Linked DNA regions of Homo sapiens. Each later gene encodes a partner of the first gene's protein in a complex. Each region holds a gene or a part of one and is shown in the gene's direction. Other genes may lie near its edges.

Evidence for each region.
Region 2: OGT (region 1) and KANSL1 share a complex: the UniProt entries of both Homo sapiens proteins name them as parts of the NSL complex.
Region 3: OGT (region 1) and KANSL2 share a complex: the UniProt entries of both Homo sapiens proteins name them as parts of the NSL complex.
Region 4: OGT (region 1) and KANSL3 share a complex: the UniProt entries of both Homo sapiens proteins name them as parts of the NSL complex.

What each region holds. Positions count from the first base shown.
Region 1 is NC_000023.11:71,571,069-71,576,392, forward strand, and holds the end of OGT (UDP-N-acetylglucosamine--peptide N-acetylglucosaminyltransferase 110 kDa subunit), read left to right. Parts: intron 1-2,551; coding exon 2,552-2,726; 3' UTR 2,727-4,824; downstream 4,825-5,324. UniProt on the Homo sapiens protein: Catalyzes the transfer of a single N-acetylglucosamine from UDP-GlcNAc to a serine or threonine residue in cytoplasmic and nuclear proteins resulting in their modification with a beta-linked N-acetylglucosamine (O-GlcNAc).
Region 2 is NC_000017.11:46,190,408-46,197,275, reverse strand, and holds the start of KANSL1 (KAT8 regulatory NSL complex subunit 1), read left to right. Parts: upstream 1-3,846; 5' UTR 3,847-4,453; intron 4,454-4,493; exon of another isoform or gene 4,494-4,857; intron 4,858-6,868. UniProt on the Homo sapiens protein: Non-catalytic component of the NSL histone acetyltransferase complex, a multiprotein complex that mediates histone H4 acetylation at 'Lys-5'- and 'Lys-8' (H4K5ac and H4K8ac) at transcription start sites and promotes transcription initiation.
Region 3 is NC_000012.12:48,652,706-48,658,268, reverse strand, and holds the end of KANSL2 (KAT8 regulatory NSL complex subunit 2), read left to right. Parts: intron 1-1,486; exon of another isoform or gene 1,487-1,621; intron 1,622-3,208; coding exon 3,209-3,328; intron 3,329-3,738; exon of another isoform or gene 3,739-3,887; intron 3,888-4,093; coding exon 4,094-4,225; 3' UTR 4,226-5,058; downstream 5,059-5,563. UniProt on the Homo sapiens protein: Non-catalytic component of the NSL histone acetyltransferase complex, a multiprotein complex that mediates histone H4 acetylation at 'Lys-5'- and 'Lys-8' (H4K5ac and H4K8ac) at transcription start sites and promotes transcription initiation.
Region 4 is NC_000002.12:96,593,290-96,600,324, reverse strand, and holds part of KANSL3 (KAT8 regulatory NSL complex subunit 3), read left to right. Parts: exon of another isoform or gene 1-199; coding exon of another isoform or gene 200-259; exon of another isoform or gene 260-672; intron 673-2,164; exon of another isoform or gene 2,165-2,244; intron 2,245-4,693; coding exon 4,694-4,714; 3' UTR 4,715-7,035. UniProt on the Homo sapiens protein: Non-catalytic component of the NSL histone acetyltransferase complex, a multiprotein complex that mediates histone H4 acetylation at 'Lys-5'- and 'Lys-8' (H4K5ac and H4K8ac) at transcription start sites and promotes transcription initiation.

The sequences.
Region 1 (5,324 bases):
GGGATTACAGGCGCGTGAGACACTGCACCCAGCCTGTGGTGCATTTTAAAATTTTTATTAGACTCTTTGGTACTTAGTTTGGTTCATACAATGCTTTTCCTCAACATTTTTGTTCTCAAAATTTTTAATTTTATAATAAACACATCTATACCTACTGCTTAGAATCTACCATTAGCATTTTACTATTCTTGCTTTATTACATATCTATTCATCCATTTATTCCCTTTATTCATCTGCCAATCCATCTTATTGGACACATTTTGAAATAAATTGCAGACATCAGTACACTTCTCCTTAAATACTTAAGATTGGCTGTCATTAACTGGAGTTCAGTACACATATATTTTTTTGAGGTAGGGTCTCCCTCTGTTTCCCAGGCTGGAGTACAGTGATACGATCTCCGCTCACTGCAACTTCCGCCTCCCGGGCTCAAGCAGTCTTCCCCTCAAACTCCTGAATAGCTGGAAATACAAGCATGAGCCACCACACCTAGCTAATTTTTGTATTTTTAGTAGAGGCAGGGTTTTGGCAGGTTGCCCAGGCTGGTCTCAAACTCCTGACCTCAAGTGATCCACCTGCCTTGGCCTCCTGAAGTGTTGGGATTACAGGCGTGAGCCACTGCGCCTGGCCATTTTTTTCTTTTGAGGCGGAAGTTATATACAGTGAAATACACAAATATTCAGTGAGTTTTGAGAAATAACCCTTTTTTTTTTCGTTTTGAAACGGAGTCTTGCTCTGTCGCCCAAGTTGGAGTGCAGTGGTGTGATCTTGGCTCACTGCAGCCTCTGCCTCCTGGGTTCAAGCGATTCTCCTGCCTCAGCCTCTTGAGTAGCTGGGACTACAGGCACGTACCACCACACCCGGCTAATTTTTCATATTTTTAGTAGAGATGGGGTTTCACCGTGTTAGCCAGGATGGTCTTGATCTCCTGACCTTGTGATCCACCTGCCTCGGCCTCCCAAAGTGCTGGGATTACAGGTGTGAGCCACAGTGCCCAACCGAGAAATACCTTTGTAACCCAAATTCCTATGAAGACAAAAAACATTATCACTCCAGAGAGTTTCTTCATGCTCCTTATCAGTCAGTCTTTTTCACCAACCCCCAGAGACAACCACTGTTCTGGAGGGTTTTTTTCCCTTCCATAAATTAGTTTTGCTTTTCTAGAATTTTATCCAAATGGAACTATGTCAATATGCACTCTAAAGGCTTCTTTCATCAAGTTTATTTCTTTTGCTGAGTAGTATTTCACTGTATGAATGCACTACAGTTTATTTTCCTATTGGCATAGAATTTTAAAAAAATAGAGTGCACAGGTCTTTCTCTTTGGAGGGTAGCATTAATATGGACATGGTTGTATTGAGACCAACAGATATGCACAACCATTTTACTGCTTCTGTCACAACAAACATTAAAACAAAGTTGGGCGTGGTGGCGCATGCCTATAATCCCGGCGCTTTAAGAGGCTGAGGGAGGAGGATTGCTTGAGCCCAGGAGTTCGAGACCAGCCTGGACAACATGGCGAGACCCCATCTCTACAAAAAATACAAAAATAGCTGAGTGTGGTGATGCGTGCCTGTAGTCTCAGCTTCCCGGGAGGCTGGGGCAGGAGGATTGCTTGAGCTAAGGAGGTTCAGTCTGCAGTGAGCCATCATCGTTCCATTGCACTCCAGCCTGGGCAACAGAGTGAGACTCTATTTCAAAAATTAAAAGAAAATAAATAAAAATTATTGCTTTTAAAAATGCACAGAAATGTTCTGGCTTCTGGTTCTAAAGTATTTATCCCTTCATCTAAGAATAATCTCATGAAAAATATATTCAAAAGGGAAGTAGAAATCTTTTCCCCTGTGTTTCCTGAAGAATCAATTACTTCTTTTTTATTTTTCTGAACAGAACCATACTCTTGGTGATATTAGCAATTTTTAAAAATCTGAACTCAGTTCAGGTACAAGTGGAAAATTACGAGAGTAGACTTATTGTATTTCTTTTCCCCTTGAGTGGTTTTCTGTTTCATCAAAATGACCATAAATCGAATACTTCATCTTATGTTTATGCTTTAACTTTTGTAAATGATGCTTCAATGAATATCTTTGCATGGTCCTGTATGTTTTTGCATCTGATTATTTCTTTTTAATAGATTTTAAAGTGTTACTGTTAGGCCAGAGGGTTATGAACATTTAAGGTTAATACATACTTGCTAAATTGCTTACCAAAAAGGTAAGCAACAGTACATAGGAATAGTCATGTGCCGTTGTCAATTCTTGTTATTTTAAAGGTAGAAACAAGACGAAATGGAGAACGCGTGGTATCCCTTGGATATACTTGTTTAGGAAAGAACTAAGTTTTTTCAGAGTATATGGAGTTGAGCTCATTTCAGTGTTAGCATTATGCAAGATGTGACCCTTCCCTTTTTAGCACGAAGCCAATCAAGAAATGAGATAGCGTAGAGTTTGGTCATGCATTTTTTGCCACAAATGCGACTAGGTATTTATAGGGTGTGTTTCTGAGTTTCTGCTCTGATTTGTAAACTGGGTTCTTGTTTTTTATTACCCAGCCTGAAGAAAGTTCGTGGCAAAGTCTGGAAGCAAAGAATATCTAGCCCTCTGTTCAACACCAAACAATACACAATGGAACTAGAGCGGCTCTATCTACAGATGTGGGAGCATTATGCAGCTGGCAACAAACCTGACCACATGATTAAGCCTGTTGAAGTCACTGAGTCAGCATAAATAAAGACTGCACAGGAGAATTACCCCTATACCTGAGCCTCAACCTTCTGGGGGAAAGGGAACTAGATAACATACTTCTTACTTGTCTGTACAGTACCTTGTTGCAGATGGGTGATATATAATGGTAATAGAATAGCACAGCCAGACTTGCTTCCTGCATGGTAGGGAGAGACACAAAAGATGGGAAACTGCTTTTCCACAAGGAATCTCCGTAGAATTTTGCGGCGACCAGATGGTGCATAGGTCTGGAAGGTCTGATCTCCCTTGGTCTTCCATGGGATGGTTAGTGTGGAGGGGAGATATAGATTGTCCGGCCGCTTTGTGATTCCATGGATTGATTCAGTCTTCTGGATTTTTTTTTCTTTATATTTTGGGTACTGGAGCTTTTAAAAATGTTTGGTTTCAGGTATTTTTATTCATGTGAAGTGTATATGATTCTCTTGAGATAAGGTTTTAAGCTAAAATGTTACTCCCTGTTTTAGTTTCTGAACTCTGACAGATTGACAGGGACTTTGCTGGTGTAGTCTTTTTATAGGTTTTATAAACCACTTGAGCCTATATCAGTCGTTTTAGTGTCTGACCTAATATTTGGAGCTATCAGTGCTTTGTTGATTTAGATGATGACTCAAGATTTTTTCTGGTCCATTTCCCATTTCCTTTTCTTCCCTGACCCCCATACCCTCACCCTTAAAATTCTCCTGTAACTCAACTAACAAAATCAAGCCTGATTCAAAACATCCTAGGGTGTTTTAAACACACCATCTGGTGCCAAATGAAGATTTTTAGGAGTGATTACTAATTATCAAGGGCACAGTTGTGGTACTGTCATTGATAATAATATAGTTTTTTTTTTTTTCCTAATTTTGACCTGTTTCACCAGTGTTTTACCCTTGACTGCCCCTTCTATGCTGCTTCCAAAAGTGATAGTGTGTGTAAGATTTTTACCTTCCTTTCTAAAGTTTTTTTTTTTTTTTTTTAAGTGAGTCCTGTTCTTCCTATTTCTTTCAGCAGAAATGAAATCCCAGGTAAGTATAAGTATTCAAGTATTTGATCAGTAAGTCACAGTTATCTCCAGTGCATTAAATAACCTTCATCAAGAAATAGGTTATAGGTAAAATCTCTGAAGGATCATCTATGTATTCAAGTAATTATTTTTTAGATAATAACTGTCTTCTGGACTTGGTCTTGAAGTCTGTACAGATTCAGCCTCAGTAGTAGCGAACTGCACTGCTGTTTGGTTTGGAGTACAAATTAGACTTATAGTCCTCCTGGAACTTGAGTTATTAAAATCATAGGAATAAAATTATGGGATCTCAACAAAGGGTCGAGGGTTTGAGGCTTAAACAAGCCAACATATGAATATATGTTTTGTCTCGCTATACTGCACTTACGCTATCCAGTTGCAGGTAATTTTTTGTCTGCTAGTAGTGTTCTAGATTATGTCTTTCCAAAGCGCTGAGGCTGTGCACCTATTCTGTAGTTGCAGCTGATGCCTGAATGTATCCTAGCTGACAAATTATTGATTAATAAGAACTTGAATTTCTGGAAGATTCTTACTGTTAACCAAATTTTGAGCAAGGAGTCTCAAAGGTAATTCTGAACCAGAATTACATGTTAATGAACAGTGTACCTTTTAACAGTGTAAATCACGGAATATCCGTGAAGGGATTTCTTAATTTATTTTTTACCGGTTGATTGAAATATCAGTTAAAGGTTGCCAGCATGGTTGCAGATAAACTGATGTTTGAAATTCGCTGAAATACTTAATGTGGAATAGGATAATATACTTCCAATGCCCTCAAGGCTGTGACCTTACAGCCATTTTACATAGCACATCATTCCTCCTATAGGGATGAACTTTTTCCTGGCACGAAAAGTAGCCGCTCTGGTTGAAGCTTTGCTTATTGTAACAGGCTTTTATTTCCAGGTAATATGTCTTGGAAGACTTAATTCTGATTAGAGATATAGATATTACTGGAAACTAATTGTTTTTTTTCTATTGTACTCTGCTTTATCAAAGAAGTAAAACATTTAAATCGTACTACAGAAATTAAGATGTTGTCTTGCGATCCTTAATAAATGAATGATTTCCCTTTAATACGGCTGATGTATTTTGTATCCTGTTATATTGAGTGTTGGACTGAAGAATAGTGTCATCCAATGATGAAACCTATATTTAAACACCTCCAAACAGCATGAAAGGACCAAATTTCCCTACTGTAGCTATGATATTAGGAATTGTTTTCTCAGCCAGGTCTGGTAGAGGGTGGGGTTAGTTTATGATCCATTAAGAAGGCAAAGTGGCCTTGTGTGGTGGCTCACGCCTGTAACCCCAGCACTTTGGGAGGCGGAGGCAGGTGGATCACTTGAGGTCAGGAGTTCAAGACCAGCCTGGCTAACATGGTGAAACCCTGTCTCTACTAAAAATACAAAAAAACTAGCCGGGAGTGGTGGCACACGCTTGTAATCCCAACTACATGCGAGGCTGAGACAGGAGAATCGCTTGAACCCGGGAGGCAGAGGTTGCAGTGAGCTGAGATCGTGCCATTGCATTCCAGCCTGGACAACAGAGTGAGATGTCATCTCAAAAAAAAAAAA
Region 2 (6,868 bases), on another chromosome or scaffold:
GAGAGGAATTAACAAGGAATGGTGGTAATGAGGGATGGTCCTCTTTTTCTAGGTAGAGAGAACACAGACAAAGATGGATGGATACAGAGCTGTGTGTAAGAGGGAACACCTTTTCCTTTTTTCTTTCTTTCCTTCCTCCCTTCCTTTCTTTTTCTTTTTTTGGAGACGGGGTGTTGCTCTGTTGCCCAGGCTGGTTTGCAGTGGCGTGATCATGGTTCACTGCAGCCTTGACCTCCTGGGCTCAAGTGATCCTCCTGCCTGAGCCTCTGAGTAGCTTGGACTACAGGTGTATGCCACCACCCCCGGCTAAATTTTTTTATTATTTATTTTTTGAAGAGATGAAGTTTTGCTGTTTTCCCTGGGCTGTTCTCAAACTCCTGGGCTCAAGCAATACTCTCACATTGGCCTCTCAAAGTGCTGGGATTATAGGTGTGAGCCACCATGCCTGGCCATGGAATGTCTTTTCTGAGGAAGAAATAATAAGATTAGTTATATAAAATACTGTAATCATAAAGTAAGATACAAATACTAAAAAACATTAGAACTCAATCATTGTTTTTTGACTTCATTTATTATATAAGGAACCTAACTCAAATTGGCTTAAGCAATTAATAAATGTTTATTGTTACATTGTTGTAATGTGGCTGGAAATCCAGAAGTCATACAAATTGTCAGGATTGGTTGATACAGTGGCTTAATGCTATCACCAAGGACCAACTCTCTATTCCCTTTGATGTTGGTGGCATCTTCAGGCTTGCTGCAAAGGTGACTGTAGCAGTTTGAGGTGTCACTGTCTGAGGAAGAGGGACTGTTTTTTCCTCCATCATTTTTAGGATTGAAGAACCTTTTCTCACAGTTCTCTTTTGGAGGCTGTCCAGGGGGCTTCTACTCACATCTCATGGCCATTCCTAACCAATCATTGGCAAAGAGAATGGGTTAAAACTAATCAGAATAGAGTGGATATTGGAGAGTCAACATGACTATTCCAAGAGTGATTTGAAATATGTTGGTGTTTTTATTTTTTTATCACTTTTCATTTTGAGATGGTCTCGCTCTGTTGCCCAGGTTGGACTACAATGGCATGATCATGACTCACTGCAGCCTTGACCTCCCAGGCTCAAGCAATCCCCTCAGCTTCTGGAGTAGCTGGGACTGTAAGCACATGCTACCACACTTGGCTAATTTAAAATTTTGTTTGTAGAGATAGGGTCTCACTCTGTTGCCCAGGCTGGTCTCTAACTCCGGAGCTCAAGTGATCCTCCCACCTCACCCTCCCAAAGTGCTGGGATTACAGGAGTGAGCTGCTGCACCAGGCCTTTTTCTTTAAATCTTTTTTTGTTTGTTTGTTTTATTTTGTATGTAGGTGTTTTCAATCAGCCTTTTGGACATCCACTATTTTTTGGGGGGAAATTTAAGAAAATTTGTTTCTCTTCATAAGATTTTTGTGTGGTGGCTCATGCCTGTAATGCCAGCACTCGAGTCCAGGAGTTCGAGACCAGCCTGGGCAACATAGGGAGACTCTGTATCTACCAAAACAAAAAGGAGTGAAAAAAATAACAGCTGGGCATGGTGGCATATGCCTGTAGTGCCAGCTACTCAAGAGGCTGAGGTAGGATCGCCTGAGCCTGGGAGGCTGCAGTGAGTTTGATTGCACCACTGCACTCTAGCCTGGGCAACCGAGCAGGACCCTGTCAAAAAAATAAAAGTACAAGTGGATGCCTAATAAGAAAGATGTCTGATTTTAGATAAGAATATACAACAGGTTGACTGATTTAAGTGCCATAAACCCTGTGAACTCTTGACTCTTGCACTAAGCAATGAGAGAAAGGGGAAACTGGAATTTATAGTTCCCCCAAATACATGGTTTTAAAAATGAGCATTTTCCAGTTTTCTCCTAATCCATTAGAAAAATATATTTCATATAATCTTGCTTATTTGGTTGCCTAATTAAATCTGACAGTTCAGTCTTAAAAATTTGGAGCAGCAGTAAGATTATTTTGTTATGGTGTGTCTGAATTTAATATTTAAGTATACGCTGCAAAGGGCTTTGCCTTATTTGGTATTTTTCATTCTGCTAATTTAGATTTCAGGAGCCTCAGATTGGGGCTCTAGTTCGCCATCTGTTGGTCCAATACCCTTCTACTGTATTTTGTGGAATTACTATTTATGTGTGTATGTGTGTACAATAAAAAAGTCAAAGTTTTTCCCCAGGGTTGTAAATTAAAAATCCAAGACTAAAGACCTCTTTTGGATGTGTATACAAATATTAGTTTATTCTTTGTGTAATTTGACCCTATGACTCCAAACTGCCTGCCTTTGGTATTTGAGAACTATGACTATGCTTGAGAGTGTGATTTTAGGAGTACAAATGGAAATTCGCAGAAACCTAGGTGCAGATGTTGCAGGGGCAGGTGAGTTAGTGTAACTTTGTGGGAAGACTAAAACCGTTCTGTAACGACTGTGAGGGTGTTTTTTGATAAGCAGAAGTGACGTATAATGCCGGATATTGGTTCTGGTAAGCCACAAAAAAGTGTGAAGCATTTTGCGTCTTCCTTTTTGGTAGTAGAGCATACATACCCTTCTTATCTGCCGAATTTGATGATTTAATGATTTGAACGATTTTTTCTTCAGTCATTTAAGCCAGTTTTGATGAATCCTAGATTAGTCTTTTAAATCTCAAGATACTCCACTCATCTTTTGGCAACTTTAAAGGGTGGTAGAATTACACTTTGTGTGACACTTTGTATTACATTATGTTTATGAATTCTTTAAGTCTAGGAAAGGTTCCATTATTTTAAAGGTCCTATTTTGGGGACAATATAAAGTTCTGTACTGATAAACTGGTCATGAGAAATGATAAGGTGCCACCACTTTAAACCAACTCTGGTAACGAGGTGGGAAGTTGGCTTTTTGTTGTGAGACTTGTGTTTCTTTATGGAGTTCTTTGTTAAACTTTTAGCATGGCAGTGAACTTCCTTTTGGTGGCGGCAGGAAGCATAAATACTCATTGTGTAATGCCATTTGCCTGTTTTGGCGGATCTGCCAAGCCATGACACCCAAAACAAGACGCGTGTTTCTTCACGAAAACTACAGTTCCCAGCGGGCCCGGCGCCGGCGGGGCCATCACTTCCCCTCTGGCTCCCGGCTGTCCCTTCCCGGGCTGGCCCGGCGCGGGCCCTGGCTGGGGCCTGCGCAGTGACTACGTGCACCCTCCCCACCCCGCCCAACTCTGGTGGCTGCGGAGCGCGGTGCTGGGGCTAGTGCCCAGCCGTGCTGCAGTATACGGAGGCTGGCTGCTAGGGACAAAGGGCGGGCGGCGGAAGCCGCTTCACTGGTCAGGGAGCTTTCTGCAGGGTTAGCCTTGGAATAGTGTGGTGCCGACGGCCTTACCCTCTTTACTACACAGTGCAAACAGTTCCTCGCTCACGTCCTCTCGCTCCGCGGCGCCGGCCCGCCCTGCCCCTCAACTGGCGAGCCGCACCGCCGGCCCCAGCACGGAGGGCATGTGACGGCGTCAGTGCCTCAGGTTAGACTCACCTCGGCCGCAGCGAGGGCTGGCTTCCCCCTGCCGCAGTGCTGCGTGCCGTCGCCGCACGTCCGGGGCAGCTGGGGCCGGGCGCCGCGGCCTCCGCAGATGGAGGTACAAAAACATCGGCCACGGCGAGGAGCCATGACTGAGGCGGCGGCGGCCGCGCCTCCTGGCGGCCCGCGGGGGCGGCGCGGCGGGCGCCCCCTGGCGGCGCGCCGGGGTGGAGCGGCCCTTCGCCGCCGCAGCCGCAGCCGGCGGAGGCGCTGCTGTCCCTCCTCCCCGTGTCCCCGGCGCTCGCCCGCTTGCTCGCTCGCTCCATTCTCCCTCCGCTTCAGATTAAAGGGGGGGAGGGAAAAGGAGCTCGGCCGCCATTTTCCCAGTGCCGCCGCCACCGCCGCCACCGCTCGCCGAGCCGGCGGGAGAACCGAGCACCGTAGCGAAGCCGACTCGTCTCGCCGCGGCGGCGCGGGGGGCGGCTGAAGCGCGCTCCCCGGCTGGAAAGAGGCGGCCGGGGGTGGCGGCCTGGGTGCGGGTTCGGGCTGCAGACGGCGGTGCTTGTTTGTGCGGGGCGGGGGGGCGGTTTCACTCTCTGCCCCCGCCCGCCCGCCCTCCCGGCCGGGCTGCGGTCTCCAGCCGTGCTCGGGCCCCGTCGGTGCGGAGCAAGGCCGGGAAAGGGCCCGAAAGAGAAGAAAAAGCAGCCGCTCCCCGCCGCCGCCTTCCCCTCCCCCTCTGCCTCGCCCCCCCGCCCGGAAAGTCAGGGCGGCTCCGGGCGTCGGGGGGAGGAGAGCGGCGGGCCCGGGCCGGAGCCGCCGTCGCGCGCCCCCGCCCGCCGCTGGCCCTCGGCGCCCAGGCCGGGGGGCTGTTTGCAAACTGCGCCCATTTTGTGGGGCTGAATCCGCCCGGGCTACGCTCCTCCATCACGTGGTAGGTGCTGCTGCTGCTCCTCTCCTCCTCCTCCTGCTGCCCTTTCTCCTTCTCCTCGCTCTCCCTGTGGCTCCCATTTCTCTCTCTCTTTGTTAGTTGTAACTAGAAAGGCAGGGCAGGGTAGAAAAATCCCCCGGAACTTTAAATGGCCTCTCCGGGCTTCCCTGCTGCGGGTCCGGGCTGGGAGTCGCCCCAAGGGCGGGGGTGTGCGGGGGCCCTTCCCCAGGAGCTGCCGCCTCGTTCGCCAGCTTTTCCTTTGGCGTTCTATTTAAAAAGGCGGCCTGAAGAACATGATTTATTCCCGTAAAAGAACCCCCCAAACAAACTCTGGCTCTCGCCTTGAACTTCTCTTGACTGCAAAAGGCCTTTCTCTGCTCGAAACACACATCTTGGCGCGTTGCACGGTTTGTATCACAACTCTGATTGTTTCATTTATTATTTTTGTTGCCTGTAAATTCAGGTCACTTACGTTTTCAGATGTAGTCTCCCTCAGGCGGACTTTTTTTTTTTTTAAACTAAAGAGGAAGAGGGATTTATTTGCTTTTAAGTGAGTTGGAATCTTAACTGCCTTTTTGGGGGCCTGTTTTCCGGCTGACGGTCTTTTGATTCTTAGCAAATAGTTTGTTTTCCATACGATAAACAGCGCTACTCCCGTGTCTTACTTAAAAATCCTCGTTTTCCAATGTTGGAATCCCAATGTGGATTTATAGAGAAACGTGCTACTTAACTATTGCTTACTGATTGCTTTAGGGGAGAAGGGGTGACATGATGGCGCCACTTTAAATTGCTCTCTTTCCTTTTCCTCGGTCCCCCCCACCCCCCTTTATCCTGGAGGTCACTGGAGCATTTTCTGTGACTTATTAATAAAACTGTACTTGAGGGTGTTAGAAGCACAACTCGTAGGGGCTGGAGTTTAGTGCTCCTAGGGTCGGCAGACCGACTGCCGCGGTCCCCAAAGTTCCGAGAAATCTCTCTTCCTCCAGCCTCGCCTCCCTCCCCTCCATTCACAATCCTGGTGTTGCCATCTCCTTTGTCACGTGGCTAGCAATCATTGTGTTTTTTTGTTTGTTTTGGGGTGTGTGTTTATATTTTTAAATTGCAGCTCAGAGGAACCTTTCCTTTTCGCTTTGGAGAGATCAAAACGTTTTACTTGTTTTAGTTTTAGAGTCGGAGAACATTTTAAAATAAACGATAAAATTACATAATCTTTGCCTTGCATAATCATGATATAGTTATAGATTGCTACTGAACTTCATTTTGAAAGTCCTTTCAAGTATGGAAACTAGTACGTTAGAATATGTTTTCCATTTGTCAGGATGGTCTGTAATTTCTGTTTTCTCTGCTTTTTGGGTCAGTTAAAGGACCACTATTTACAAAGGCTTAAGTGGGTGTGTTTTCCCTTTCCCCTTTCCTATAGGCTCTACTTGGTTCCTTTTCTAGCATGCTGTCTGACCAATTTAGAAAATTTCAATTGTCTACAGGCGTTGTCAGTTAAAACTATTTTTTTAACCTATCAACAGTGAATACTTTTGAGTAGTAATTGTTTTGTGCCTAATGCTAAGTGTATTTATTAGCATTTCGGTGTTGATCTAGAAAATTTTTACTTTTAATCCTGTAGTTTTAGAAGTATGTTATTCCTTTATCTGTTTCTTTATATCAGTTTTTCCCATAATTGGGTAAACTCCTATTTTATAAAATACGAAGTACATTTCTGGTTTTTTCTACATAGGTTACTAGACATTTTTTCAATTTGAAAAAACATTTTGAATTAAGAAACTTTTTTTTTAAAGTAAATACGAAATGTGGTTCTTGAGTATGCATTGATCCTGATTTACCATGTACATTGTCAATGGTTTGGACCATTTTCTTTGCTAACAGTTACATCATGTCATGTGATATGTGCAGTGTGATGTGTAGTTCTAAAAATAAGGCAAGGTAAAAATGCTCATCCCTTGGGAATTTAAAAAATGTATTATAAATGTGGAATAACTACCTTCAGTCATGAAATTCTGAATTGGATTTCCACTAGGTTTATGCAACAAAGTGTGCCGTTCCTTCGACCTTTAGCATATTTGGTGTATTTGTTAGTACCTCATAATTTGAGGTGATTGACTTTTTATTTTTTGAACTACTTGGAGGGAAACATTAAATGTTACAAAGGTTCTTAATGTCTATATTATGGTGAAGATGGTTGTCACTGATGGCCACCTCATTTGAGTATATACCAGTGTCTGTGATTGTGACCAGTTAAAAGAATGATCAGTTAAGAATTATTAGAGCCTTTATGGTAGGGTGGGATTTTCGGTCTTTCCATCTATATGAGTCCACTGAAGTGAAGTATTTTAGAAGTTTTCTTGCATCTTTTCTGAAAGCCACGTTCAGAACATTCGTATTTGACTTTGGTGCTTTACCAAC
Region 3 (5,563 bases), on another chromosome or scaffold:
TCAGTGTTTAAATAATTCCAAGCTAGTCATTATTATTTTTGACAGAGTCTCGCTCTGTCACCTAGGCTGGAGTGCATTGGCGTGATCTCGGCTCACTGCACTGTCTGCCTCCTGGGTTCAAGCGATTCTCCGGTCTAAGCCTTCCGAGTAGTTGGGATTACAGGTGCGCCCCACTGTGCTTGGCTAATTTTTGTATTTTTAGTAGAGACAGGGTTTCACCATGTTGGCCAGGCTGGTCTCAAGCTCCTGGCCTCAAGTGTTTCGCCCACCTTGGCCTCCCAAAGTGCTAGGATTACAGGCGTGAGCCACCGTGCCCATTCCAAGCTAATTGTTTATGTAAGAATTGCACATGGGCCGGGTGCGGTGGCTGACGCTTGTAATCCCAGCACTTTGGGAGTCCGAGACGGGTAGATCACCTGAGGTCAGGAGTTCTAGACTAGCCTGGCCAACATGGTGAAACTCCGTCTCTACCAAAAATACAACAATTAGCTGGATGTGGTGGCACGCGCCTGTAATCCCAGCTACTGGGGAGGCTGAGGCAGGAGAATCGCTTGAACCCAGGAGGTGGAGGTTGCAGTGAGCCAAGATCTTGCCATTGCACTCCAGCCTGGGTAACAAGAGTGAAACTCTGTCTCACACACACGCACGCACACACACACACACAAATTGCACATAGTAAAAGAATGGGAGAAAACAGATTTATAGTCTTAATGGTGTGAGAACACTGGTTTCTGTGGGTAGTACAGAAGTTTCCAACTCACCTGAAAATGAATGGTAGGTTGAGTGTATCCTGTGCCCTATGTTTCTGCTTAAATTGAGCAGCTTTATTTTATTATTTTTTTTTGAGACAGAGTCTTGCTCTGTTGCCCAGACTGGAGTGCAGTGGTGCAGTCTCGGCTCACTGCAACCTCTGCCTCCTGGGTTCAAGCAATTCTCCTGCCTCAGTGTCCTGAGTAGCTGGGACTACAGGTATGTGCCAAGACGCCTGGCTAATTTTTGTATTTTTAGTAGAGATGGGGTTTCACCATGTTGGCCAGGCTGGTAATTTTTTGTGGAGACTGGGTTTCACCATGTTAGCCAGGATGGTCTCAATCTCTTGACCTCATGATCCGCCCACCTTGGCCTCCCAAAGTGTTAGGATTGCAGGCGTGAGCCACTGCACCCGGCCTGAGCAGCTTTAAGTAGATTTTAAAATTATATATATTCTTTAATGTGAAGATGTTGTGATTCTCATTTTTGGTGATTAGCACACCAACAAATGGGAAAGGATTGCAAATTCTTAGATTTATTTAAAAGCGTAGAACTAAGCTTCTCGTGAAGCTAGATGAATAGAAACACGGAGCATCTATAAACTGGATTAAACATAGGGGGGTACAAACCTCCTGGATATTTTTAATTCTTAGGAAGAAGGAGAATTTAGCACCAGACTCTTGAAAAGCAGTGGCATGAAAGTTAGTTTGATATATTGTTTGAGTTTGTATTGCCTTAGGCCCTGAATCAAGACCAATGGTTTGCTGTAGCTGTTGGTTTCAAACAGGAGCTAAGAGTGATGTCTTCCTTGTGGTCTGTTGGCTATTCAGTATTCCAGTGCGAATTGCCAATTCAGTTGGAAGAAACATAGTCTAGAATGTAATGTCATTTTTTTTTTTTTTTTTTTTACAGAGCAAAACTATGTTAGGCTTAAGAACCAGGGAGTTGGCCGGGCGTGGTGGCTCATGCCTGTAATCCCAGCACTTTGGGAGGCTGAGGTGGGCCAATCACTGGTCGGGAGATCAAGGCCATCCTGGCTAACATGGTGAAACCCTGTCTCTACTAAAAATACAAAAAATTAGCTGGGCGTGGTGGCACACGCCCATAGTCCCAGCTACTGGGGAGGCTGAGGCAGGAGAATCACTTGAACCCAGGAGGCGGAGGTTGCAGTGAGCCGAGATCACGTCACTGCACTCCAGCCTGGGCGACAGAGCGAGACTCTGTCTCAAAAAAAAAAAAAACAAAACAAAAAAAACCAGGTTGTTGCTCTGTCGGGATAGGGACTTAACCAAAATAATATTTCCTAGCCATTCAGAGGAACTGTGAGTTTTCTGTTGTCCTTCCTTTCTTCCTACCTTCTCCCTTTCCCTTGTTGGAGCTTGTTTGCTTGCTTTGTGGCTGTTAGGATATTAATCAGGCAATCTTGTATTACCCAGCAATATTTAATTTTAACGTAGCATTGTTCATATTTAAATTAATCACTGGTGAACTTACATGTTCATTACAGGTAGCCTCAGAGAATATGCTTTTTTAAAAAATATTTTTTTAATTGTAGTAAAACATACATAACAAAATTTTACTCTTTTAACCTATGTATGTATGTGTGTAAGTAGGTGGGTAGGTAGAGATGGAGTCTTGCTGTGTCACCCAGGCTGGTCTTGAATTCCTGGCCTCAAGTGATCCTCCCACTTCGGCTTCCCAAGGTGTTGTTATCATAGGCATGAGCCACTGCACCTGGCCGTTTTTAAGTGTACAAGTCAGTGGTGTTATGAACATTTACCATGTTGTACAGCTATCACCATTTTCTGTTCCAGAACTTTTTCATCAACCCAAACAGAAACTTTGTACTTTTTAAACAGTAACTCTCTCCTTTCCCTTTCCCCTGTTCCCTACTATTCTCCGTTTCTACTTTGTGTTTCTGTGAATTTTCCTAGAATTTTTTTTTTTTTTGAGACAGGGTCTGGCTCTGCCACCCAGGTTAGAGTGCAGAGGTGCAGTCTCGGCTCACTGCAGCCTCTGCGTCCCAAGCTTGAGGGATCCTCCCACCTCAACCTCCAGAGTAGCTGGGACTACAGGTGTGTGCCACCGCGCCTGGCTTATTTTTGCAGTTTTTGTAGAGACGGGGTTTCACCATGTTGCCCAGGCTGGTCTTGAACTCCTGGGCTCAAGTGATATGCCTACCTTGGCCTCCCAAAGTGCTGGGATTAGAGGTGTGGTGGCCAGAATTTTGTTTTTTAATCTACTGTATTGGTCTATGTTTTACACTTGGCAGCAAAAGCTCTCAGTGCTTTTGGATCTTGTTTCATTTGTTGGACGCTCTTGTAAAATTTTTTTTTTATTAAAGGTAGGCTAGGGTTGAGGGAGACAGCAGAGTATTGCTTTAAAGTTTGCTGAAAAACATGCCAACTTTATTACTGTTTCCCTTGGTATTGCTGATGGGCTTTTCTCTTTTTTCTAGGACTTGGATGTTGTGGGTGATGGTATGCAGTGTCCTCCTTCACCTTTGCTTTTTGATCCTTCACTAACCCTTGAAGATCATTTAGTCAAAGAAATTGCTGAAGACCCAGTGGATATTTTGGCAAGTGAAGAACAGTCCCACCTGTTTCCCTCATGTAGTGACCTGGCCAGGCAGAGGGTTCCCTGCTAGATAGCATGTGCTCCTGGAGGGGAGTGGGGTGTCATCACTAGTATAAAGATGCTCCACATGTCTCTCACTTATTGAATACCATATAAGCAAAGCACTTTTAAAAATGCCCTACTCTGCTCCTGTGTACCCTTGTTGCTGTAGTTCTCCAGATGGGCTCTTAGAACACCTAATGGCCCGTGATCCTCATATCCCAGAGTAGGACATACATTTATTTAAATAAAAGCTTGAGACAAGGAATCTAGGGAAATCATACCTTCTGAGGGAGAGTTCATCACTGAAATTGTTCTCATTGTAGAAGGACCAGTAAAGTAATGTGATTTGAGTTCTGTCCGTGAGCCTTGGGTAGAATTCCAGTGGCCCTGACTGAAGACCAGCAGTTGTACTGTGGCTGTTGGTTTCAAGCAGAGGCCTAAAGGACTGTCTTCCTGTGGTCTGTTGGCTGTTCTGGGACCTCAGTAGGGAATGGCTATTTCATTTGGAAGAAACAACCTACAGCTCACCATCCCATTGGAAGAGGCTCAGGAATAGGCTCTTCCAAGGGACTAGGATAGCTAATATGGGAAGAGCATCTGTCCAGAATTAATTTCTGTTGTATTGTTCTTATTGCTAGTTTAAGTGGCCACTGATAAGTCAGATTCATACTTCAGACCACAGTGAATGAATTACTAACTGAAGTGCCTTTATTTCTTTTAACAGGGCCAGATGCAGATGGCTGGAGATGGGTGCAGATCCCAGGGATCTCGAAATTCTGAGAAAGCCTCTGCACCATTGTCTCAGAGTGGATTGGCTACTGCAAATGGGAAGCCAGAACCCACTTCTATTAGTTGATAGTTTGGGGAACCATTTTACTTTGGTGGATTTAAATTTCTCGTTCTTCAAAGAAGTATTTCTGATCATCTCTCACAAAACACAGGCAACCCAGACTACCTTGTTTTTCTTCTGGATTGAGTATTATAGTCAAACGTAAAGCCAAATTTTGAGGACGTGGACCGTGGGTTTCTTCCCACTCAGGGCAAGGAAGAGAAAGAGAGATAATCCCTATCAAAGCTTCTGGGATTATTTGGGACTATACCTAAAAGGAAAGTGACATCTTTGTAATGGGATTTCCCAAGTCATGGATAGAAATCCACTTAAGTAGCTAGGTGGGAGCTGTCTTTGTGAGTGGTGTCTTTGAGATACTGATGGCCCTAATATCGGTTATCTCTATCTGAAGACCTGCAGTTTAGCTTTTCTTCACCTCTACTTAATTGGGCAGTCTTTAACCCCTTTCCCTGGTGAACTCTGGCTTTTTATCCTCTGAGAAAACAGCCCACAGGACTGGGTCCTCCTTATCCGTCTTGCTTTTAACCTATGTAAATTTCTGTGGTTGCTATCTTATGTAAAATATAGTAAAAATTTATTGTATATAGTTTCTATTAAATGTTAAAGAAAATGTTATGAAAATATCAAACAGTCACCTGAATTGAATGCATGTTTTGTTTGAGAATATAGTTTCTTTTTCGCGGTTTTGGGGACCTGTCTCTGATGGGAAAGGGAAGTTGGGACAGATGATACTTCCATCCCAAGAAGTAAATAAATCTTCAGTAGCTCATTTTGGTTTTGCTTTGAAGGAAGAAGTAAATGAAAAGGGGCAGGACTTATTAAAGCCCATCAGTTCCAAATATCTTTCTTCTTTTTACCCTCCACTCTGTGTCTCCTACACCCACTCCCATTTCTCACGATTAATGCCAATGCCATCTCTGCCAGACGTGGTGGCTTACGCCTGTAATCCCAGCACTTTGGGAGGCTGAGGTAGGCGGATCACTTGAGCTCAGGACTTCAAGACCAGTCTGGGCAATGTGGTGAGACCCTGTGTCTATATTTTTAAATTTTAAATAATTATTTTTAAAAAAATAATGCTAATACCATCTCAGAATTCTCTAGTGGTAGGAATATACTTAAAACATAGAGAAATTGGGCCTGATGCTGGATCACTAAGATAGACATAGATAGGTATTGTCAAGATCGTTTTGACACTGAATCTTAGAGCAGGATTAAAATAGAAGTTCAGTTAGGGTTGAGGTACCTATGCTAGAAATTGTCTATTTCTATACTGCATTATGACAAGGAGGGCAAAAGATTACTTTCTATAAGAACTGAAATGGGCACAGAATGGCTTACAGTTAT
Region 4 (7,035 bases), on another chromosome or scaffold:
TTTCCCATGATGCTACTCCTAGAGATGATGTTCACTGTTAATAGCCTGATATGGATCCATTCAAATTTTTTTTTCTACACAAAGTATGTTATTTTATTTATTTTGTACAAATATGGGATTACAGAGTATGGACTGTTTTGTAACTTGCCTTTTTTTATAAATCATGTCGTGACACGTTTCCCTGTCTGTGTCTTTTCAGAGGCTGGCTAGTATTTCACTGAGTAGATGTATGAAGATGTATTTCACCACCTTCTGTTAGGTAGATAGCTGGGTTCTATTTTGGTTTTTGATATTTTAAATAATGCTCTGGTGAACACTTGTTTATTCTTGTGTACCTCTGGGAGCATTTCTCCAGGCCAGAGAATAAGTAGAGGATGTGTACCTCTAATATCTGGGCAGCTGCTCACTAACTGCCCTTCAAAAAGTTTTTGCTACTTTACAATTCTAGCCACGGTGATGAAAATATGTTTCATATTTTGTGGAAATCAAAATTTTAACTTTATTAATCTGGGTGAAAAATGAAATTGTTTTAATGTGCATTTTCCTGATTACTTAAGAAGTTTTATGTCTTTTATGAAATGTTTGTCATACTCTTTGAATTATAGTGGCTTTGTATATTCAGATGTTAAATCTTTATCTGTTACACAAATTACATATATGTTATTCCTGTCAGTGGCTCATATTTTTTTTTCTTTCTATTGAAGCATTCATTGAATGTCAGTCAGTCTTTTAACTTTTATTTCTAGATCATACAGCCATTTAAATGTTTCATATAGTAAAATCTTCAAATATTTTCCTTTATAGCTCCAAAGTTTTATGCCTTAAGAAAGCTAGCCCTATCACAAGAATATAAAAGTAATCCTTTTTGTTTTTAAAATTTGAATTGTGGTAAAACATATATAACATACAATGTACCATTTTAGCCATGTTTCAAGCTTACAGTTCAGTAGCATTGAGCACATTCACATTGTGGTACAGCCATCACCACCATCCATCTCCAGAACTTTTCTGTCATCCCATATTGAAACTCTCTCTTTGTGTTTTCTTATAATGCTTTTGCTTGTTTCCTTTAATTCCTTATAGTTCACTTTTGTATGTTAAGTGAGGTAAGGATGAGTCCATTCATCATTCCTCCACTCATCTAAAATCCACTGCTGTCACATTCTAAAGTACTGAACACATATGGGCCTGTTCTGTAGTTTTGAATTTGTCTATCCTACGCTGGCCTTCTGTTATGGGTTGATAGTATGGATCTTGAAGTTAAGGGAGTGTCAATTCTGTTTCTAGTTTGCTAAGATAATCTTCATTCTTTTCCTTTCTCATGATAGTTTTGAATTTTTTCCATTATTCTTTTAGAATCACATGAAATGAATGAGGATAAACATTTCCTTTTTTTTTTTTTTTTTTTTTTTTTTTGAGACAGTCTCACTCTTGTCACCCAGGCTGGAGTGCAGTGGCACGATCTCAGCTCACTGCAACCTCTGCCTGCCAAGTTCAAGCTATTCTCTTGCCTCAGCCTCCTGAGTAGCTGGGACTATAGGCTCATGCCACCACCCTCAGCTAATTTTTCTATTTTTAGTAGAGACAGGGTTTCACCATGTTGTCCAGGCTTGTCTTGAACTCCTGACCTCAAGTGATCCACCCACCTTGGCCTCCCAAAGTGTTGGGATTACAGGCGTGAGCCATCATGTCCGGCCAACGTTTCCTTCTAATCAGTTAAAATGATGAGTTACTTTAATAGGTTTCCTAATATCAAACTGTGTGAATTCTAGATGCAGTGGCTTTTTCAGTGTGTCCTATTCTTTTTATTATACATACAAAGGCAACAAGACCCTATCAAAAGAACGAAATGAAAAAAGAAAGAAGCTAAGCATTTCAAAAGAAAAGCATGTCTATTCTATTTGCTTTTATTTTACTTAGGATTTTGGCGTCTATATTAATCTCCTCAGGCTTTGGCCCATAGTTTTCTTCCCCTCCACCCCCTACTTCTGTGTGTGTGCTTTCCTTTGTCTAGTTATGTAAAAGGGGTAATTCAATCCTTGTAGAATGAGATGGGAAGTGCTTTTCCCCTCTCATACTCTAAAACAGTTTTATAGTACAGAAATGATAGTTCCTTGATGGGTTGATAGAAGTGACCTACAAAGCCATTTGGGCCTGTTTTTAGGGTGTCTTCGTTTGCTGATGCCATGTTGATGGACAACTAGAACACAGATCCTGCCACGTGATCCCTTCCTCCTGTGTTAGGTAATCCGTCTCAGCTTGCCATGGCCTGGGCCAGCCAGTTACCATTGAGAAGAGAGTAGAGGTCATTGAGAATCCCCCTTTTCTGGAGCTCAGTTGAAGCACAGAATAAAGATCAAGGTCTGGCCTTCTAACTGATGATGTTAACATGAGATTAGTTTTCATCTTAATAGAATGGACGTAGGCTGGGCATGGTGGTTCACGCCTGTAATCCCAGCACTTTGAGAGACCTAGGCGGGTGGATCACGAGGTCAAGAGATCGAAACCATCTTGACCAAAATGGTGAAACCCCATCTCTACTAAAAATACAAAAATTAGCTGGATGTGGTGGCGTGCACCTGTAATCCCAGCTACTTGGGAGGCTGAGGCAGGAGTATTGCTTGAACCTGGGAGGCGGAGGTTGCAGTGAGCTGAGATTGTACCATTGCACTCCAGCCTGGGCAACAGAGCCAGACTCTGTCTCAAAAAAATAAAATAAATAAATAAAATAAAGTGGATATGTAATTGCTAGGAGGAGTCAGGTGGTGATTCTTTTCCAACAAGCAAGGGGATGTTATTAGATTAAGGCTTCTTGCTGATTCAGAAGCTTCTAATAGCTCTGTTCAGATTGCCAGACAGAGCACTGGACTATGGGTCAGGTCATCTGTTTTCAGCCAGCTGTGTGATCCTGGGCAAATCACCTATCCTTCTGGGCTTTGGTTTTCTTACCTGGTTTAGAGAGGAAGTTGACTTAATTCAGTGACTGTTGTGGTGGCAGGATCAGAATCTCCTCAGGCTTTGGAAACCGACGTTTTTTAATGCTTAGAAACAAACTACCCATTTTTTTGACATTTATGAGGCAATTGGAAATTTTAACACTGACTGGATAGTTGTTGATATTACGGAATTGTTAACCTTTTTAATGTGTGATAATGGTATTGTTAGGATTTTAAAACAGTCATTTTTTATTTTGGGGTTCCATACTGCAATATTTTTGGATGGAATGAATTTAAAAAGAAAAGTGAACACCAACTAGACTTCTCTAAGATCTGTATAAGCACTTAATTATCTGTTTTGTTTCTGGCACTGATTGGTGTTTACTATGTGTTTCCTTCATGGGAATGGACTATTGTGTACTCATCACAGCTGAGAAGCTGCAGGGAGGAAGAGGACAGACAGAGACTATGTTGTGCCCTGCATCAGGGTCCAAAAAATGGACTCCCTGCCTGTGGTTATAAGTTCTCTCTCCTCTCTGTCCTGCTGGCCATACCAGGACCTTGTCAGCCTGGCAAGCAGCACCTCTAGCTGGAGGCCTCTGGCAGTGGGCCTCACTGTAGCCTTGTAGCAGGCTGTGGGCAAGCTGGCTCACTCTAAGGTGTATTCATAATCAGAACAGAGTGATCATCTGTGTACAGCCCTGCCTTTGGGCAGGGAAGCCCATGAGGTTTTGTTTTTGTTTTTGATTGAGATGGGGTCTTGCTATATTGCCCAGGTTGGTCTGGAACTCTGGGCTCCAGCAGTCTTCCCACCTCAGCCTCCCAAAGTGCTGGGATTGAAGTCATGAGGTTTGATTGTCAAACTCCTCTTCATTGGTGTGATTATGGCTCACTGCAGCCTCAACCTCTTGGGCTCAAACAATCCTGTGGCCTCGGCCTCCCGAGTAGCTGGGCCTATAAGGCATGCAGCACTATGCTCACCTAATGTTTGAAAAAATTTTGTAGAGATGGGCTAAGTTGCCCAGGCTGGTCTTAAACTTCTGGGCTCAAGCAGTCCTCCTGCCTGGCCTCCCAAAGTGTTGGGATTATAGGCATGAGCCACCTCGCCTGGCCTTCCCTCCTTTACTACATTCTCAGAGACCTCTTAGGAGTTTCCCAAGGGGGAAATTTAGAAAAGTGGGGAAAGCGTTGGTAAAAAAGGCCACCCTCTCTACTTGCTTCCTTATTCTTAAGCTGCAGGGCTCAACATTGATGGCATCCCCCCACACCTACATGTCTAAGGCCTCAAAATCAGAAGTCACGGAAATCTTCCCTTCTGTTCTGTTGCCCTTAAAAACTCACCTATTTCCTTTTTTCTGCATTCCTTTTCTGTCTTCATGTGTAATAATATGAGGTGACCTTTGTTGTTGAGCACAGATTAAACTCAGGAGCTTTATGTGGATTATTTCATTTAATCCTTACGGTGACCCTGGAAAGTAGATGCTGTCATCTACCTCTTACAGGCGAGGAAAAGGAGGCTCAGAGAACATAGGCACTTGCCTTAAAAAGTGGAAAGTTGAGTCTCTCACTCTAGAGTCCATGTTCTGTTAACCACTTGGCAGCTAGAACATGTGTCCTTGTGTATCCAACTTCTTTCCTATTGAGAATTAATTCTTTAAAATAAATTCTCAGGAGTTGGGATAATTGGGATAGAGGGTCTGAATATGATGATAACCTGTCAAAGCTTTGACCCTTCTTCACTACCTCTCCTGCCACAGCGCCTGCCTCCAGCACCCTGAAGATGCTGTGTGATATGTCCTCCTTACCAAGTTGGTGATGGCTGCCTCATGGTGGGCCCTGGACAGGTGTGTGGTCCTGCTGAGCTGTCCACGTGTCGGAAGACCTGTTTAAGACAGTCATTTTTGCCTCTCCGCCAACTGTCTTCAGAGAAACCATTAGGTTAGGTGATACGGTGCCAGCAAGGGAAGCACCATCGTCCAGGATCTGCAAATCTGGTTCCTGGGAACCCCAGACTCCTCAGCAGATCTGGCTGTACATGGATCAGAACCACTTCTTCCCCCGCTTAAGCTGTGGTTTGACCCAAGGGTCAGCATATAGGACTGCCTGCTGCATTTAATGAAGGTGTTTCCTTTTGGAAGTCTGTGCTACCCTCTGCGCCTAGTTGGGAGGAGACATCCATCTGGTCTGGGATTTCGGGAGTTAGAATGGAAAGCTCTTTGCTAAAGACTGGAGTCATCCTGGCCTGCCAACTGGTGGTTCAGAGCCGGACGGGCTTGTTTTGGACATCACTGTTGCCTTCACTCAGCAGCCACGGGAGAGTGCTCCCCATGCAACTCCACCTTAGAAACCACGTCAGATACTGAGTAGCTTGCTGACTCCTGGAAACTTCTGGTTTTTGTTAGTATCATAATGAAGGCAAAGAGAACTAGGCTGTCATCTTTCAGCCTCTTTGACTTACTCTAGATGTTGGGAGCAGTGGTTGCCAGGTGAAACCTGGGCCCTTTGTCTTTTTCACCATGCTTTGGGCAGTTTCTGTATCCAGAGAGTCCGCAGGTTCAGATAAGCTGAAGAAGAGTAATAGAACAGCAAAGGAAGTGGCTTGAAGGATGTGCTAGTAAGCCCTGTGGTTTGTGCTTAGGTCTCTGCTCTGCTACCCAAGGAACTGGTGGTTCAGCTGGAGATAAAAAGAAGAATTTGCCAAGTCAGAGAAGAAACCCCAACCCCGGAAAATCCTCTGTCTCCAGTCTCTGGAGGTGAAGCAGGGACAATAAGCTAAGGTAGTATCTTGGCCATCCCAGGAAACTTGTGGCATTAGGACGATGAAGGCCATGCTTCAGTGTTTTCGTTTCTATTTCATGAGACTTTTTGTCTTCCTGCTTACAAGTGGGAAGATGATTGACAGTGACTCTACTATGCAGGGCTGTTGGTACCAACCTGAGCCCTATAGGTGGCAGTCCCTGGAGAAGTGGTCACAGAAGATGGAGCTCTGATCCCCTGCTTACCTCTTCACAACACTTGTGTGCAAAGATAGTTTTAGATTTGGTTTAGAAGCTATCCTCCAGAACAGGCTCCCATACTTAGAATGTTTCTAGTTAAGGTAATAAATTAGGCAACCCAAGTGTGACTCCACTCAAGTGTCCTTTTCTGTAGGCAGGAAGGGCCCACAACATGGCTTAAAATGTAGTCCATGGTTCTGGCCCACAGTACAGTGTGTATCTATACCAGGTCACCTGTGTTCAATCTGGGAGCCTTCCTGGCCAGTCTGAGTGGCAGCCAGAAGGGAGCTCATAGTGTCTAGGAGTCTCAGGCAAGGTAGGTCAGGGTACTGTGGGCAGGGGGGATGTGTGTGATAGGAGAGGGTACCCTAAACCCCATACCTTCCCTCCCTGACCTGAAAAGCTGATCTCAACAGGGATTCACACAGAATTAGGCTGTGTTTTTGCATTAGCTGGTAGGTGACTTTCTCAAAATTCTTAAATTCAGAAAGTATTTAGTAAACTTGAGGAAGGTATGAAATCTGGAGGAGGCATCCAGGACCCAGGGGTTTGATAGCTTTACAGGTAGGATCATACCACACCAAAAGAGCAGTGGACAATAAGACTATATGAGCTATATGAAGCTTTTAGGAATCATTTAGGACAGACAGAGCCCTAAACAACCCATTCATGACTTAAGTTGTTGGCTCAGTGTATGCTGGGGACAAAGAAAAACTAACAAGCCGACCTGCCTTTATGATAAATTCTAGTGTGCTTACAAGGGATGACTTCCTGAGGTGTGATCTGTCCACCTTGAAGAACTCCACAACTGAAGAAGGGGAGCTGTGAGAACGTGGATTGTTCTACAACTTGCACAGGGTAACAGAGGAAGTGGCTGAGGCCTAGAGTCACGTTTTCCAGTTCCCTTCGCAAACTATATTTCTTGGAACGCGAAAGGAAGCTTTACCTATTTCATAGAAGACCTGGAATCCATAACCTCAGAAGGCAATATTATTGATAGAAAATGTGGAAGGATCAGGAAGTTCTTAGATTCTTGGATGACAGATGCATGTTGATGCCCTATGGAGATGTCCTTGTGTTTTGAGGTCACTGAGGTAGGAAGA